Linked DNA regions of Homo sapiens. The protein of the gene in region 1 purifies or fractionates together with the protein of each later gene. This does not show direct contact. Each region holds a gene or a part of one and is shown in the gene's direction. Other genes may lie near its edges.

Evidence for each region.
Region 2: the proteins of ELAPOR1 (region 1) and KLHL41 purify together in Homo sapiens (affinity purification with mass spectrometry; one large-scale study listed by BioGRID and IntAct). This does not show direct contact.
Region 3: the proteins of ELAPOR1 (region 1) and IQCB1 purify together in Homo sapiens (affinity purification with mass spectrometry; one large-scale study listed by BioGRID and IntAct). This does not show direct contact.
Region 4: the proteins of ELAPOR1 (region 1) and TMEM131 purify together in Homo sapiens (affinity purification with mass spectrometry; one large-scale study listed by BioGRID and IntAct). This does not show direct contact.
Region 5: the proteins of ELAPOR1 (region 1) and DCUN1D5 purify together in Homo sapiens (affinity purification with mass spectrometry; one large-scale study listed by BioGRID and IntAct). This does not show direct contact.

What each region holds. Positions count from the first base shown.
Region 1 is NC_000001.11:109,204,184-109,207,288, forward strand, and holds the end of ELAPOR1 (endosome/lysosome-associated apoptosis and autophagy regulator 1), read left to right. Parts: 3' UTR 1-2,598; downstream 2,599-3,105. UniProt on the Homo sapiens protein: May protect cells from cell death by inducing cytosolic vacuolization and up-regulating the autophagy pathway. May play a role in apoptosis and cell proliferation through its interaction with HSPA5.
Region 2 is NC_000002.12:169,512,681-169,516,201, forward strand, and holds part of KLHL41 (kelch-like protein 41), read left to right. Parts: intron 1-1,893; coding exon 1,894-2,051; intron 2,052-2,173; coding exon 2,174-2,281; intron 2,282-3,521. UniProt on the Homo sapiens protein: Involved in skeletal muscle development and differentiation. Regulates proliferation and differentiation of myoblasts and plays a role in myofibril assembly by promoting lateral fusion of adjacent thin fibrils into mature, wide myofibrils.
Region 3 is NC_000003.12:121,793,558-121,797,078, reverse strand, and holds part of IQCB1 (IQ calmodulin-binding motif-containing protein 1), read left to right. Parts: intron 1-1,512; coding exon 1,513-1,622; intron 1,623-3,521. UniProt on the Homo sapiens protein: Involved in ciliogenesis. The function in an early step in cilia formation depends on its association with CEP290/NPHP6.
Region 4 is NC_000002.12:97,789,934-97,793,454, reverse strand, and holds part of TMEM131 (transmembrane protein 131 precursor), read left to right. Parts: coding exon 1-60; intron 61-470; coding exon 471-1,069; intron 1,070-3,521.
Region 5 is NC_000011.10:103,064,646-103,068,166, reverse strand, and holds part of DCUN1D5 (DCN1-like protein 5), read left to right. Parts: intron 1-1,599; coding exon 1,600-1,708; intron 1,709-1,793; coding exon 1,794-1,898; intron 1,899-3,521. UniProt on the Homo sapiens protein: Contributes to the neddylation of all cullins by transferring NEDD8 from N-terminally acetylated NEDD8-conjugating E2s enzyme to different cullin C-terminal domain-RBX complexes which is necessary for the activation of cullin-RING E3 ubiquitin ligases (CRLs).

The sequences.
Region 1 (3,105 bases):
AACTGCTGGGATTACAGGCATAAGCCACTGCACTCAGCCTTTTATTTGTTTTTTAAACCACGTAGCTCATTGCCTTCTCTTAAGTAAATGATAGATATTCTCACTGAAGCCAAAGGAATAAGTTCATCAAGAAAATGCCCAAAGCCCTGGTGGATACATCCTCCCTATCTTTTTTTTAAACCTTCCACTATCACTCTATGACACTGAAAAGAACCAGGTAAGCCCCAAACCCAGATGTTCCAGCCTTATCCTCTGTTGGGTTTACCCACAGACATAGCAAACCCTGTCAGTGAGGAAAATTCCCCATCCTTGAGTGCCCCCGTCCTAGAAGTTTGGGCCATATTATGGAACAGGGGTCTCTTATTTGAAAAGAGCACAAGGAGGCCAAGATTTTAATGGGGCACTTTAGGGGATACAGCCCACAATGGCATGGGCCTGAGGTGGCCGTGATGTCTGCTTCTAAGCTTAACGCATCTGCTCAGGCACAGAATAAACGTCTAGGCTGGCCAAAAAAGGAACTGAATCCCAGGCCCATACGCCAGCACCAGAATCAAACCAGTCTTCAAGGAAGGAAGGCTAGGAGAGTTTAACAAGATTTTCACTGGGCCCAGCATGGTGGCTCACACCTGTAATCCCAAGGCAGAATGGTGGCTTGAGCTCAGGAGTTCAAGACCAGCCTGGGCAACACAGTGAGACCCTGTCTCTAAAAAATTTAAAAATAAACAAGGTGTTCACCAAGCTGGGATACTTCTCACTATTAAGCCCCTATCTTTCTCTTTTTTTCATTCTCAATTGCTTTGTGTGATAAAAAACTAAAGAGACTTCTGGTCCAATTTCTGGCAACATCCCTTCTGAAAGGTGAGTAGAGTGGGTGTCTTCTATGCCCATTTTCCCCAATTTTACACAAACTATTATCAATGAACTTTTAAGTACCTAGAATGGGTAAAACCAGAGCAAGACTTTAAATTACCTTCTTCTTTCTTCTACTGGCAGTTCTGCCTCCATCACTATCAGGCTAGGGTGACCTTCCCTTGGTCAAGCCCCAATTGCCCATGATTTGTGCCTGTGCCCTTTCTCCAGTGACCATTTGGTGACCAGATGGTAGATATAGAAAGGGGATGGCATTTGCAAGTGACTAGTCTGCCACAAAATGCTCATCTGATTAGCCACTGCTGCCCTGGCAATGGCTTTGTAAGAGTCAATGAGAACTAGAGCCAGGCTGTGGTCCCTGGCCATCAACAGTGTTGGTGACGGCAGGGAGTCCCTTTGGTTTAATAAATCCAGTTTTTCTTTGGGTATCCAAATTCTCCCCTCCTTTTGTAGGAGTCAGGCTCTCAGAACCTGTGTCCATGTTGGAACTTCCCCCAGTGTGGATGCAGATACGCAGCTCCTGAGCTCCAGCCTAAAGTCTTCTGTAGCCTCAGCAATACTTGGGCACCTGCTGTCTCACTGAATAGCTTTCTTTTGTGACAAAGGCCACAGACAGCCCTTAGACTATTCCGGAAACAGTAGGAAAAATTACATATGTCTTTGACTTCTTTATTCTGACTCCACTGATTTTAGCCATAATACTTTAAGGAGCTACTTTTTACTACCCCTTACCGTGCTGACTTCTGCAGGTCTGCCCTGTGACCTGTCAGGAACTCCTGAGTTACGCTACTGGGGTCACCTGTTGCTCCCCTAGCAAGTTAGGCATGTCATATATTTTTAACAGCTTTATTGAGATATAATTCACATATTACACAATTCACCTTTAAAACATACGATTCAATGGTTTTCAGCAAACTCACAGAGTTGTCCGCCCACTTGAGAGCAAACACATGTTCAATTTTCTTTTCCTTTTTTTTTTTGAGACAGAGTCAGCTTTGTTGCCCAGGCTGGAGTGCAGTGCCATGATCTTGGCTCACTGCAGCCTCCCCATCCTGGGTTCAAGTGATCCTTCTGCTTCAGCCTCCCCAGTAGCTGGGATTACAAGCATGCGCCACCACGCCTAGCTAATTTTTGTGTTTTTAGTAGAGATGGGGTTTCACCATGTTGGCCAGGCTGGTCTCAAACTCCTGGACTCAAGTGATCCACCCACCTCGGCCTCCCAAAGTGCTGGGATTACAGGTGTAAGCCACCGTGCCTGGCCTACATGTTCAATTTTCTATGAACAAAGGCTTTAGTCCTTGACCCAGGGCTAAAGTGGTCTGTCCAAGCTGTTGTTGGTAGAGGGAGTATGATAAAATGTTTAAATCTCATTTGGTTACCTTGAGTCCTGGAACATGCAGTAACTGTCATGCTATAGACATCATCTGTATTTGGCTGGGAATACAAATGAAGATTGTGGTGTATTCAAGCAGTAGGGTTTTTGCTTTTGTTTTTGTTTTAGTGCCAACAAAACTTTTTTTTGTCTGACTACATTAAAGATAAGACTGACTATATTTATACAACAGAAACTTTGTAATAGATTTTTTCAGCTTTGTGAAATCGAATTTTTTTTCATCAGGGCTGGTTGGATTTCCTTTTTACCCTGTAATCCAAGCGTTAATAGTTTGTTAGAAGATGGGTTATTGCATGTCACTTTTTTTTTTTGTAAAATAAAAACATACCTTACAAGTTGTTTTTCTTAAACATGGGTTGGGTGGCTGGAGGGGTGAGTGGGAAATGTAAGTGTCCTGGAAGCTTAAACTGAAAAGGAGAAGGATTCCACATTCGCAGAGAGGCAGAGAAAAGAGCACAGACTTTGGAACAAGATGGACATAGGCTAGAAGCCTCCCACTACTTGTTGAGGAATCAGTCAATAACCAAAGCCTCAGTTTCCACAATAATAAAATGCATCTAATGATACCCAACACACCAAGATTGAATGAGCTCAAAAGAAATAACTCATAAACCACTTCGCATGCTACTTCCCTTCCCTTCTGCTCAGGTTTCTTTCAGGAAACATGAGGCCAGCCACATAACAATAAATCCACAAATAGAAGCAAAATTAGCTTCTTTGGGTATGAAGTAGATTATTACAGACTAGATGTGGAGAAAATCCTAGATGATATCAAGGGCCTACCATTTCCTGAGGTTGCTAGATTTTTGCTTTCTTTCTTTTTTTTTTTTTTTTTCTGAGGC
Region 2 (3,521 bases), on another chromosome or scaffold:
TGCTTTTAAAAGGCACTAATAGAACGGTATGCCAGGATAAAAACACTTCACCATAAAAGAGGGTTGTGACTCATCAGACAATATTTACATGAGAATTTCAGGTTTTATATTTTTCTGCTTGGTCACATCTATTTAAAATGCATTAATTTAGGAGTAATTTGACCTTTGATTGTATGCTGTAAATAGATTATGAGAATTTTTTACCTTGGTAAGGGAGGATTTTTTCCCCCACTCATTAATTTGAATTAATAGATTCATCAAATCTTTGAACAGGTCTTAAAGTAATCTAGGTCCAAACCCTAATTTTAACAATGAGGAAAGTTGAACTCAGAGAAGTTAAATAGCTTGATAGTTCCTCTATAAAAGAGACTGGTAGGTAGTCTACTGTTCCATCTGCTAGAGAAAGTGCCCTCTAACAGGTAATATGGGAAGGTAGGCAGTACTGTACAGTATGAGAGTTAAGCCCACAGGTATGGGATTATGATGGCTGCTGTTTCCATTTTTTAAAACCAACTGTGAATGTACATGGCTTGGATTTGAATATCACCTAAAAGTTCTGTGTATTTGGGAAAATTATTTAATCTTCCTGTGCCTCGGTTTCCTCATCTGTAAAATGGGGATGATAGAAATGCCTATCCTGGAGAACTAAATGAGGTTACCTGTGTAAAGCATTTAGTTCAAAGACTATGACAACAGTCAAAACCCCATAAATGTTCATTATTATTTCTACTATATTACATACCACCTTCATGATCAAAGAATTTCTTTCAAAAGTGAAAACATAAGGGATCAAAATCTAGCTGTTGAAATTAGTGAATGCAAAGCTAAGAATGCACATGTGGAGATTAAACTTCTCATGTCATCTAGTCTTAATTAGCGCTTTGTTTAACTGAGGTTACTAGACCACATATAGATAGGCTTCCACAGACACCCCTGTCTATACCACAGCCATTTGTATGCACATCTATTCTTAGTATCCAGTGAAACTGGGTTTTATTCATTTTATTTTTGCAATCTAGAAGTGGTACCAGAGAGAACAACAAATCTGCAACTGTACTCTTGCAGAAAACAGTTTTCTTGTGCCTTAGTGTGCTAAAATGAAAAGTGTAAAATATTTAAATTACCAAAAGTAAGTGATGAAACAGATGCCACCATCATCTACCCCAGGGCATGGGCACAAGGAGATTTTCCTCCTTGGGAAAATCTTAAGCTTGCAGAAGTGGTGGTGACCAAAAATGAGCAGTTACTTATTAATATAAATTTTTTAAAAAAGAGAAGAGTATTTCAAGGGACTCCCAACAACACACTAGGAAATTCACTTTAACGCCTGCCTGTATCAGGAATAATAAAGCAAAACACAGAGAACCTAAAATGTTTTTAAAGAAAGAAAAAAAGATATTGCCCAACATCCCAGTTGTTTGTGGACTGAGTGACAGGTCCAGCTGTCCCAGCTGCCGGCATGGGGAGCATGTTAAATATAGCACGCAGGGGTCATTCACATTCTGTGACCCTCCTTGTTATGACAACCTTTCTTTCCCCAGTGTCCTAAAAGTATGAGGATCTCCTGTTTCAAAGCTGAACAAGGCAATATGGGAGAAAATTTGACAAGAAACCTCACAGTTGTAATTAACCTCTGGTGATTCTATTTTATTTTTTCTTTTCTTGAAGCCTTGAAGATTTTGATATCTTTATCTGGTAGGCCAAGTAGATTTACTCATTCTTCTTGGTAATTATGAGCTACAATGTGATACTTTGGGGTTGTAGTTTTATTTACTTGTGAGATATTTGACTATCTCGATGACTTCTAAACAACATATAAAGTATAACTTTTTTTGGTGTACTTCTAATTTTTTTCTAACAGGCTCCACAATCTCTCATATATGTTTTTTTCAGCTCGATAGCATAGCATCTGAATGGGTTGGACTTCCACCTCTGCCTTCAGCCAGGTGTCTCTTCGGTCTGGGAGAGGTGGATGATAAAATCTATGTAGTTGCAGGCAAAGACCTTCAAACAGAGGCTTCGCTGGATTCAGTATTATGCTATGATCCTGTGTAAGTTGGCATGATATTCCTGTTCCCTAAGCATTCAAGTATATGCGTGCCTACAACATATTCATATTTTCAGAACCTGGAATTTACTGAAGGTATATAAATTCTGTCTCGTTTAATTTTAGGGCTGCAAAATGGAACGAAGTAAAAAAACTCCCTATCAAAGTCTATGGCCATAATGTGATTTCACATAAAGGGATGATATATTGTCTAGGAGGAAAGACAGATGACAAGTAAGTACCCTGAACTCTCATGATTTATGTCTAAATGACTTTTTATTAGAAGGGTTTCTTCCTCTTTTCTTTTCTTTTTTTTTTTTTTTGAGATGGAGCTTCACTCTTGTTGCCCAGGCTGGAGTGCAGTGGTGTGATCTCGGCTCACTGCAACCGCCGCCTCCTGGGTTCAAGCGATTCTCCTGTCTCAGCCTCCTGAGTAGCTGGGATTACAGGCATGCTCCACCACGCCTGGCTAATTTTGTATTTTTAGTAGAGACAGGGTTTCTCCATGTTGGTCAGGCTGGTCTTGAACTCCCGACCTCAGGTGATCTGCCCGCTTCAGCCTCCCAAAGTGCTAGGATTATAGGTGTGAGCCACCACGCCCGGTCTCTTCCTCTTTTCCTTTGGATCTGCACACTAAAATGGGACATGGTTCTCACCTATCATATTGTGGAGGGAAAATCTTAAAATTTCAAGTCGCTGAAGTAAACATGTAGATACTCAGCATACTGCTAGGAATGAGCCTAATACCCCAATCATAAGCATCCTTACAGTCCAGGCAGTATCTAGGAGCATAATCAAGTCCTGTATTTCACTGATTTATAATTGTATTTTACTACATTAAAACCAATGGGTTTTCTTATTCATTTAGCCATAAGTAGATAAAAATTGAAAGGTATCTTTAATGTAGTATTTAAAATATATCTTCTAAGACAACTGTGCATAAAAAATATCATGGATTTGTACTTTACATTCATAAGAGGGACTTTAGATAGGTCAGTTTGAAAGAAAAGCGTGGTGATTGAAAAGAGGGAAGTAAAAAAGACAAAATAAAAACAAAAAATTAAGGCAATTATTTCCTCAGCAGTGTTCTTCCACATATTTACTCCCTGACAGAGGTAATATTCAAAATGGCTTCCAACTGTTCAAAACTGAGCTCCCAGTAGCACCCAGTATCTTGTGAGAAAACCAGGATGAGGTTTCATATATAAACCTAACTTGATTTCCAGTCAATTCTTAAGGAACCTGTAATCAGGAAAGAGATGTTATAACCCAGAGAGAGGAGAAGTGAGCTCCGAATGCTTCAGAGACAGTCAAACCAGTATAACCTGTCTAGTAAAATAAGCATTTTCAGTTTAGATGGTGAGAACTAATATTCTGCCCCTGAAAAATCTGCCTGATTTGGCTTGTCATCATTTGCCCAGGCCATTGAATTAATAGTGATGTCCAACCCTGAAAAGGGAGCCAAAATTTAGAA
Region 3 (3,521 bases), on another chromosome or scaffold:
TGACTATATTAAACCTTAGTTTTCCTTAAATGTTCCTCACTTTCTTTCTCTTAAGATTTCAAGCAAAATACCCCCAAAACAGAAATATCTTTAAATTTTTTACTCAGGAGGTTGAGGCAGGAGGATTGCTTGAGTCCAGGAATTGGAGACTGCCCTATGATCACACCCATGAGTAGCCACTGCACCCCAGCCTGGTCAAAATAGCAAAACCCCATCTTTAAAATATAATGTTACAAAATTGTATCTCTCCGCCATTCAATCTGCTGGAAAACATAATTTCAATCTCCCATTTACATCTGTTTATAAATACTGCCACATCAGTTTCATTCATCATTTCTCATGAAAGCCCCATCTCTGATGTTTATCTTCTTTTATCTATAAGCTATTTAAACTTTTAAAACTGTTTTTCCAAAAAAAATCTCTAATTGTAGCAAACTGTATTTATGGTTACCTATGGCTACCCTTCTTGTTCTTTGAGATACAACAATAATGCCTTTTCCTTTGTGTAAGAAATGGTATTAATAAAATTATTTAGAAATTTGAGGCAGCAAGTTATTGATTATTTCATCATACTTCCTCTAGCATACTCAAAATGATGGCTCTAAATAGCCCATTCAACAGGAAGAGGCATATTGCTTTCTGATTTCCAGATAAAGACTTAAATATGGAAAACATCTAAAATGACTAAAGATATTTTTTAATTTAAAAGGAAAAGGGGACATTGTATATCCAAAATCCAAAACCAAAAAGACAATAAATTTAAAAATACAAGCAGAAACCATGAAAATAAGTCCAGTAAGGCAGGAGAATGGGTTGGGGGAGGCTGGAAGGAAGAGTGCAGAAGAAGGGAATTCCTTTTTTCTGTATATATGAACCATCGTGAGTTTAGATTAATCTCAAAACTATGCATATGCTCAAATTCATATTGATTAGGTAACAAAATCATAAAACTATATTTTATTATTAATAGTTGTACCCTTTGCCATTCCATTTGAGGACTCAGAAGTCTATTAAGTAAACAGGAGACTGGGACAGAATTCAGTCAAGAACTCAGACAGCTCACTGACCTTTTAAGCCCAATGGTCTATCAGGAGAATAGCATATCAAAAGCTTACAGAACTAAACAGAGATTCGAGCAACCATCCACAATGGTCAACAGAGCTTATAGTTTGAACCTAACTAGGTTGATTGCCTATTAAGTAAAAACATTAACATGTTAGCTCAAAAAAGATTATGAAAGGTCAGGCGGACTATGAAATCTTTGAAAAGGAAATGGAAGTGAGATTATTCTGGGAGAATTTGGAGCTAACTAGACTATATCTTGAGTATGTTCTAGAAATTGCCTTACCAAGCCTAACATACCTCCTTTGGGAGGTAAGGTTTAATATTCTTACCCATCTTGTTAGAGCTAGAGATTAATATTTGCCCTAACCTGATACTTTAAGAGGTAAACTTTTTTTTTTTTTTAAAGACCTTCCTAGAGATATCTCTAAATTATTTTCGGCATTTCAGAAACTACATCAAGCAGCATGCTTGATTCAAGCCTATTGGAAGGGTTTTCAGACAAGAAAGAGATTAAAGAAGCTTCCATCTGCTGTGATTGCTTTGCAGAGGAGTTTCAGGTAAAAAAATTTGGTGAGGGGATTGATGATCATAGAATCTTACTAGAGTACAGTTGAATTGAAATTTAGGTGATTTTTTTTTAATTTCCTAGTATGTTTCTTGTTATCTTTTCATTTTTTTTCCATACGTTTCTGGGTACCAACACTCCAGTAACCAGATGCACTTTCAAAGCAAAGGATGTAAGACAGGAATCTGATGTGTCAAATATGCAATCCTATCCACTTAATAAGATATTTGGGGAGGGGCCAAGCCTACAAAGGGAGCCAATGATAGTTATATTATTAAACCCTCTAAACCAACAGTTATCATAATTTCGTGTGTATAATTATAACAATAACATGTATGCGTATAAGAGTTTAAGTCTGTTAACCTGATTTTCCTGAATAAATATGGCATGGATGGATATCTTCATTGAATTATGATATAGTTCGGCATTTATTTCAAGTAGACTGAAAAGGAAATACTGAAGACATAGCCCACTTTCTGCAATGACTTAACCAATCCAGATCCTCCAAGGTCACAGAACAAGAAAAAATAACTTAGCTTCTAGGTAATTTATGGTAAAGAAGATCTGTTTCAGAGGTGACTTTTTCATGCAGCCTAACTTAAAGCCAAGCTTTAGTTTGCTAAAATGAAACTGGCATTTTACAGAAGTTAATTCTTTAAAGAAAACTGAAACTATTCTTTTAATAACTGCAGATGCATTTCTCAGTTATAAAAACATTTAAAAATAGCTCTGGGGTTCAAAATACTATGTAGTCACAGAGTTGAAGACATTGAAATCACTCTAGCTAACTGTGTCTCTTAGTGGGTATCCTATTAATTGATGAACGTTTTCTTCAGGGAAGAATTAAAGATGGATTTTAAATATTATTGGGCATGAATATTGTTGGTAGCAAAGAAAAGAATTAATTTTTAAATATATATCAAATGCCTAGTATATGATATATGTACTAGGCATTTAACAGATTCGAGTTTGTATCTCACTTGAGCAGCTTACTGGTTGAGTGAACTTGGACAATCCCCCACCTCTCTCAGCCTCAAACTTCCAATCTATAAAATGAGAATAATAGTTTATACACTTGTATGATCAAGATAATGTAAAATTTGAGATAATACAAAGTTTTTAGCATATTATCTGGCACTTAAAAAATGATAGAAGGAAAAATGCATATGGCACATTTTCTGTCCTTGAAAATTTACAAATCTAGGTAAACAAATAGATGCATTAAATAGGTAGTACTAATGAGAAGCAAGTATTATCCATCTATTATTACTCAAAGTTTATTGCCTATCTTACAAGCTGTTTTTTTTTTAAAAGCATTTCTGTGGTTAGATAAATTTGGGAAATATTGAGTACTTTTTGAGTCACAGTGTATATTTTTCTACCCAAAGCATCTGAGGTGCTCTTGGTATTGCCTCTGTGGTGAATTCAGATAGAGTAGGTATTACTTATGGATTCCACCTGCTATCATCCTTAGTTACCTGTCATCTTAAATTTAAGGGTACCCTTATACATGGATTCAGAGCATTAATGTTTAGTCCCACAAGAGTTCCCAAATTTGCTCATATACTCTCTCTTTCAATATTAAAATCTCTATTTAAAAGTAGCCCAGGATTACAGATTTTTTTCTACTTAGAAGTGTATCTATGGAATCTAATATTCCATTATTTTAAAATAGAAATTCCATTGCTTTCTTTATGTAACCAGAAGAGTTATAAATACTTCCATTAAAAAGATAAGCTGTGAAGCAAAAATTATTTAAGTCTCACATTTTGTGTTTGTTGCCTTTCCAGTATTTTTGCATTTGAGGTTCCAGAATATACTGAAATGCGGTTCTAACCTGTTGGATTCTATTTAATTTTTTAATTTTCAGTTTTCTCCAGTTCAGCACCTT
Region 4 (3,521 bases), on another chromosome or scaffold:
CTTCGATGTGGGAAGGCCATTTGATCTCAGGAGAATCGTTGGTATTTCATCTGAAGGAAAGTATGTTCACATGCTGGCAATAAATTCCCTAGTGTACATAGATTTGGCTGATAAAATTACAATAAAAAATAAGTTTCTTTTCATCTTTGCTCAGGAGAAAAAAAATCTTAATTCTGATTACTTAATAACACCCTGTATGGAACTCTGAGTGACTTAGAGCTCATGCTGGATACTGTGTTTTTATTATATTGGTAAGGGTTAAAATACTTTTAGTTAGATCACTGATGGTAAATTATAAATGTTCAGATAGAACAGATGTTAGAGAGTTGTAGAAATTTCCCTATTTCTTGCTATTTTTTCCCTAGTGTAGTTTATATTTATGGTGGCTGTACTGATGAAGTTGAAGTTTTTTTTTAATATTAGATTTTGTAGGTTGCTATTTACTGATCTGCAGTTGGTCCCTTTTTCAGCTTGAACACACTCAGCTGTGACCCCGGTCACAGTAGGGGGTTCTGTGGAGCAGGCGGTTCATCATCCCGACCCAGTGCCGGGAGTCATAAGCAGTGTGGCCCATCGGTCCACCCACACAGCAGTCACAGCAATAGAAACTCAGCTGACGTGGAAAACGTCAGAGCCAAAAACAGTTCAAGTACCTCTAGTAGGACTTCTGCTCAAGCAGCTTCTTCACAGTCTGCTAACAAAACAAGCCCCCTTGTCTTAGATTCGAACACAGTGACTCAAGGTCATACAGCGGGCAGAAAGTCCAAAGGGGCAAAGCAGAGCCAGCACGGCAGCCAGCACCATGCCCACAGCCCGCTGGAGCAGCACCCTCAGCCTCCTCTGCCACCGCCAGTGCCTCAGCCCCAGGAGCCGCAGCCTGAAAGGCTGTCTCCCGCCCCCCTCGCACACCCTTCCCACCCAGAACGTGCCAGCAGCGCGAGGCACAGTTCCGAGGACTCGGACATCACCAGTCTCATAGAAGCCATGGACAAAGACTTCGACCACCATGACTCCCCAGCCCTAGAAGTGTTTACAGAGCAGCCTCCATCGCCATTGCCAAAAAGCAAAGGTAATCATCTCCCACTGCCGGAGATCCGTGATGTGTGAGGGAAAAGCCAGTGCGTGCTTAAGGAGCTATTAAGATTATAGTTGTGGTAAACAACTAATTCAGTAGGTTCCTCTGGCTCAGATTTATCTCCAGTGTTGGACTTCAACTTTTCCATAAAAATGCAATTAGAGGTATCTGTCATAAAAGATATATTTGTATTTCTTAGATTGTTTACCAAAATCAGAAATTCTGTGGACATCTGCTTTTCTTTTCAGCTGCCTGAGATTGTGTTATTGTGATAGATTTAGCTTTTGTTTTATTGTTAAAATAATTTTGAGCACAGGAGTAAAATGGAGATCATCTGCCTTTTAACTCCAAATTAGGATTTCTTTACTTTAGAGCAGGGGTTGGCAGACTACAGTTAGCGGGCCAAATCACCACCTGGTTTTATAAATAAAGTTTTATTGGAATAGAACCATGCTCATTTGTTGGTATATCCTCAGCTTTCATGCTTCTATGGCACAGTTAAGTAATTGTGACCAAAACAATATGGCCCACAGAGCTGAAAATATTTGCTATCTGGCCCTTTGCAAAAAAAGCCAACCCTGCTTTAGAGTTCTGCTTACTGTATTAATTACCTATTTCTGAGTAACAGATGACCTCAAAACCCAGGGGCTTAAAAGAACGTATACTCTTATCTCACAGTTTCTGTGGTCAGGGACATGAGTACAGCTTAGCGGGGTCCCATGGCCCTCACAGGACACAGGACTGCAGTCAAGGTGTTGGCCAAGGCTGATGTCATCTTAAGGTTCAACTGAAGGTGGACCTGCTTCCACGTTCACACAGGCAGTTGATGGTGGGATTCAGTTCTTCACGGACTGTTGGACGGAGGGCCCAAGCTCCTCCTTGCTGGCTGTGGCCAGAGGTCTGTCATGGTTCCTCTCCACAGAGCGGGTCACAGCTTGGCAGTTGGCTCCCCCAGAATGAGCAAACAAGAGGGCAAGGAGGAAGCAGGACGGAAGTCACTGTTTCTTACTATCTAATCTGGGAAGTGGCATCCCATCAATGTTGTAGTATTCTGCTCATTCGAAGTGTGGTCCAGCCCACACTCCAGGAGAGAGAACCGCGCAAGGGCATAAATACCAAGAGGTGGGCACCACTGGGAGCTTGGAAGTCTGCACCACACACAAATAGGTAGACCAGTTTGTAAGCTCCAGAATCAAAAGGTAAAAACCAGTAAATAGCCTCTAGTTGTATTGCAATTTCATCCCTTCACAGCCTGAGCTTTTTTGCATCTTCCTTTCTGTCTTGTGGCAGCCATGCTAATATACATTATTCCAAGCCTGTATCAGTCCCTTCCAGAATGGTTTACCAAGGAGTTTTGGGCTTCAATTTATACGGAAAACAGGGATCTTGGCAGCCCTAAGAGGCCAGAAGAAACTTGACATCCCAGAGTCAAGGAGTTTTAGATAATTTTTTAGTCCCAGGAATACAAAAACTAGCTCTATTGAGTTCTCTTGGAATTACACGCATTCGGATTTGTAAAACAGTAAGATGTCTTGAATATGATTGGTTAACCTCTTCTACAGAAATCCTTTTTGGCTAACCCATTATTAACTGAGCTTACATATTTTAGGGTAATTTTTAGAATAATCTTAAGTGAATACTTAAAAGTTCTTTTTTAATTAGATCAAGTTACATAGCGTTTTCCCCACATTTAGGGCGTGAATAAAATAAATCTGTATTATCCTTTCTTATCACAAAGAAAGAGTTGGGCAGTCAAATTGACTACCTCATTCCTGTGTCAACACAGTCTTCCAACACCAGCGTGATGGGCCAATTCTATTTTCAGGGTCACTCATTGAGAACCTAAATTTTAAAATGAAATGCTTTTTAATTTTCACAGTGGTCCTAGAGTCAACCTACTAAGAGATACTCAGTGAGGGAGCATGGATGCCACATTATTGGTGACTCTTGAGCCTGTGAGGAGACAGTGGTTAGAAGCTTTGCAGGCGCGGCTACTCTACTCACTATCCTTCCCACTGATGCTGTTTGGGAAAAAGGAAGGAGCCTGTATCTATATTTTTTTTCTTCTTCAATGTTTTTATTGAAGTATAGCATGCATATAGACAGACAGTCTTTAAAATGAACTTTAAAAGGTGGGCATTGATCTTGGGGTTGCAAACTAGTAGTATGTTGTGAAACTATAGGCTTCCAGCTGGGCAAAACCTTTATAATCTTTCAAAAGCCTACCCCCACACCCCTGCAAATAGCAGATTTACATTAAATAGTAACATTCTCTTTTTAGAGGCAACACGTTCTTTTTTTTCTCCCCCTGGTATCTCATACTAAAATTATTTCTTATAATGAGCTTATGTAGTTTCTGGTTTTTGGAAGCTGCTCAGGATGACCTCTTCAAGTGAATGTGTTTATCTCCCTGGATCTTGCCTTCTGCGGTTGGATGGCTTGCAAG
Region 5 (3,521 bases), on another chromosome or scaffold:
GGATGAAGATAATGCTAATGCAAATTAGAAAATGTTATAAATTTTAATCATATTTAAATAAACTTATATGTAAAATAATCAGTTATGAGAAAAGTATGGGACCAAAACATTCAAAAAGAAATAGAAAATCTGAATGGCCCTATGGCCATTAAAAATGTTGGTTTATTAGTTAAAAGTTTTCCTTCCCTCAATACTCACCTGAGTTTGGACAGATGCTAATTCCAGGGTTACATAAGCTTTTTCAAAAAACGGGGGGGAAAAGTAGCAATTCTCTTTTCATTTTCTGAGTCTTATGTACTACAATCTTGTTAAAAAAACTAGCAAGGAGAGTAAGAATGAAACTTAAAAGCTAGTCTCACTTAGGAACCTAGCAAAACAACCCCAAAATCCAGCAATGTATAAAACAGATAACATGACCAAATTTGACTTATTCTAGAAATGCAAGGTTTAATTAATATTAGAAAATTGTCCAAAATATTTACACATTAATGAAATTATGTTACTACACATTATAGGCCTTTGCATTATTGATTTAGTATAGTCTTAGTTAAATCTGAGAATGCCAGGTGGCTGGAGAGCATGTTGAATAACTAAAATTCAGTTTTGAGTGGAATACTGTGGACCACAGTAGATGGCACAATTAATTTGATTAAAGGGAGTCAGATGGTCTCTCAGAGGTGGCAAAATGTGAGTTAGGTCTTGATGAATAATATTTTTATCAGCATGTTTGAGATTTCAAGTGGAAATAATGGGTGCTGAAGTATGGCAGTGGCATTTGGGAATGGTAAGTGATATAATTAGAGCATGGTAAGGTTATCAGGAAGTGGCAGGAGATGAAACTAGAGATTTGTGCCAAATTGTGAAAGGCCTTGACTGCCTTGCTTCTTGCTAAACAGTGGAATTTATCAACCCACTGAGACAAAGTCAGTTAAGATTTTTGAGCCTTCCATATATTTAGCTGCTTATATTTAATGTCTTGTCTTTAAAAATAACACGTATGACTTGTTGTTTGCATGCTTTTGCATATATAACTTATTTGAAGTTAGGTGCTTCTACTGATTGACTTTGACTTTTTGTTCACAAAAATATAGGGATCTTGATTTATGACTGGACCACTTAATGTATTAATTTGCACTGTGTTATATCCTAAACTTTTAAAACTACTCATGACTAATGTCTTTCACCAAACTGTTACCTACGAACTTTCTAAAGAAATGTGTGACAAAGGCGTGATTAGTTTCATTTGCTCTGCCATTTTTAGCTGTATATGTGATAAAACATGTTTTAATACATCTCTTTTTAACTTCGATTTTATTTGGAATTTTTGAATGAGCTGTTTGTTTGTTTTTAAGCAAAGTAATTGGAGTGAACTTTCTTTGATTCCCAGGTTTTCTTTTTTCCCCTTTTTTCTTTTTTTATTGCATTGGTAGATGCAGGGCAAGAAATTTATTACTCTAAATTTGTGACTCAGAATTTTAAAACTAAATTAACTTCATAAATGCGCTCACTTTTTTCTTAATGCATTACGTCTAACCCCCAGTGATACTTTTATTTGATTTTCTTGATTATGTAATTTGTTTGATATTTCTTTTATTTAAGGTGTGACTGCACAGAAAAGTTACAAAACAAATTTGACTTTTTGCGCTCACAGTTGAATGATATTTCGTCATTTAAGAATATCTACAGATATGCCTTTGATTTTGCAAGGGTAGGTGCAATTTTCTTGTTTTGTTGTTTTAATAGCTTTTCATCTTGAGACCACACTTAGGAAAACTTTTTCACTTATATTTTAGGATAAAGATCAGAGAAGCCTTGATATTGATACTGCTAAATCTATGTTAGCTCTTCTGCTTGGGAGGACATGGCCACTGTTTTCAGTATTTTACCAGTACCTGGAGGTACGTATGTTTTTTCGAATTTTGAAAATATTATTTTAAAACTTAATCTGAAAGTTATACTTTTGAGGAACAAGTAGATTTTTAATAGTATGCTTTAAAAAAACTTTAGAGAAAAAATTCTAAAATATGTACATATCAGTTGCTATTTTTAGATAGAAGTTCATGTTTATTAATATATTTTGTACCTAAGATATTTTCAATCCTACCCCCCCAGTCCCCCAAATAAAAGAAACCTCCAAGAAATACATTGTATCACAGACATTTGTCTTGCAGAATTAGTTTCTCGGGGTTTTCATAAGAGAGTTAATGCTAGTACACAAACCTTTAAGCTTCTAAATCTGATTTTCTTCTTTTGTTACACAGGGTCTTAAGCTGAAATGTACATAAGAGAACCAATTTAGTAATAAAACTTTCCTTTTCTACTTAGGCTCAATCTAAAGAAACAGAATAAAGCTATTAATATTTTATGGCCACAAATATGAGAATGGCTATAATAGTATACTTAAATATGCTGGTTACTAAAAAAATGTAAGCTGAAATGATGACGTGTTCTTTTAGAAGGTTTATCATAGCAACTACTATAGGCAGTGATTCTAAGAAGATGCTATTCTTTTTTTCCATTGCTTTGTCTAGTTTTTTTTTTTTAAATCTGTTTTTGTGCCTTTGTAATTCTAGGGTTATTGGTATAGTTCTCACCATATCTTGAATACAGATGCTTTTTCCTTTGGAAATAATTTCTCATAAAGCACATTGCTTATAGCTGCTTCCCTTTTCCCAGAGTAGTAAAAGTTGTGATACAAGACAGTGATATCAGCTGGGCGTGGTGGCACACGCCTGTAATCCCAGCACGTTGGGAGGCCAAGGCAGGCAGATCACTTGAGGCCAGGAGTTCGAGACCAGCCTGGCCAACATGGTGAATCCCCGTCTCTACTAAAAATACACACAAAAAATTAGCTGGGTGTGGTGGTTTGTGCCTGTAGTCCCAGCTACTCGGGAGGCTGAGGCACGAGAATTGCTTGAACCAGGGAGGTGGAGGTTGCAGTAAGCTGAGATTGCACCACTACACTCCAGCCTGGGTGACAGAACGAGACTCTGTCTCAGAAAAAAAAAAAAAGAGACAATGATATGAAAAGGTCTTACATGAATGAGTTTTACGCATGATTCAATCTGTAAGTCCTATAAATTATTTTTGATGGATGGTATCTATTTTCTTCCTATTAGTAGTTTTGGGCAAAAATAAATTTAACTGAATGTAAAAATATTCAGCTCTATGGGGAGCTGAGAAGAACTAAATATTTTCAGACACTTGTTATGTGCAGGTTGTTTGGCATATATTTTTAAAAATCTTTATAATACCATTTTGAATTAAATTCTATCCCCATTTAACAAATGAGGAGGTGGTTTCTATTCTTAAGTAACTTTCCCAAAATCACTCAATTAAGTGGCAAGGGTGGGATTTAAATCGAAGCCTATACTCTTTCACTTGTTTCCAAAGATGCCAAACTCAAAATGTGGCTAAACAGTAAATCTTGAGCAAAGAAATGATTTACTAGGAAGCAGCACAATAGAACATACTGGATGTAGGAAATGTTATATATCTTGATCTCATTGGTGGTAACACAA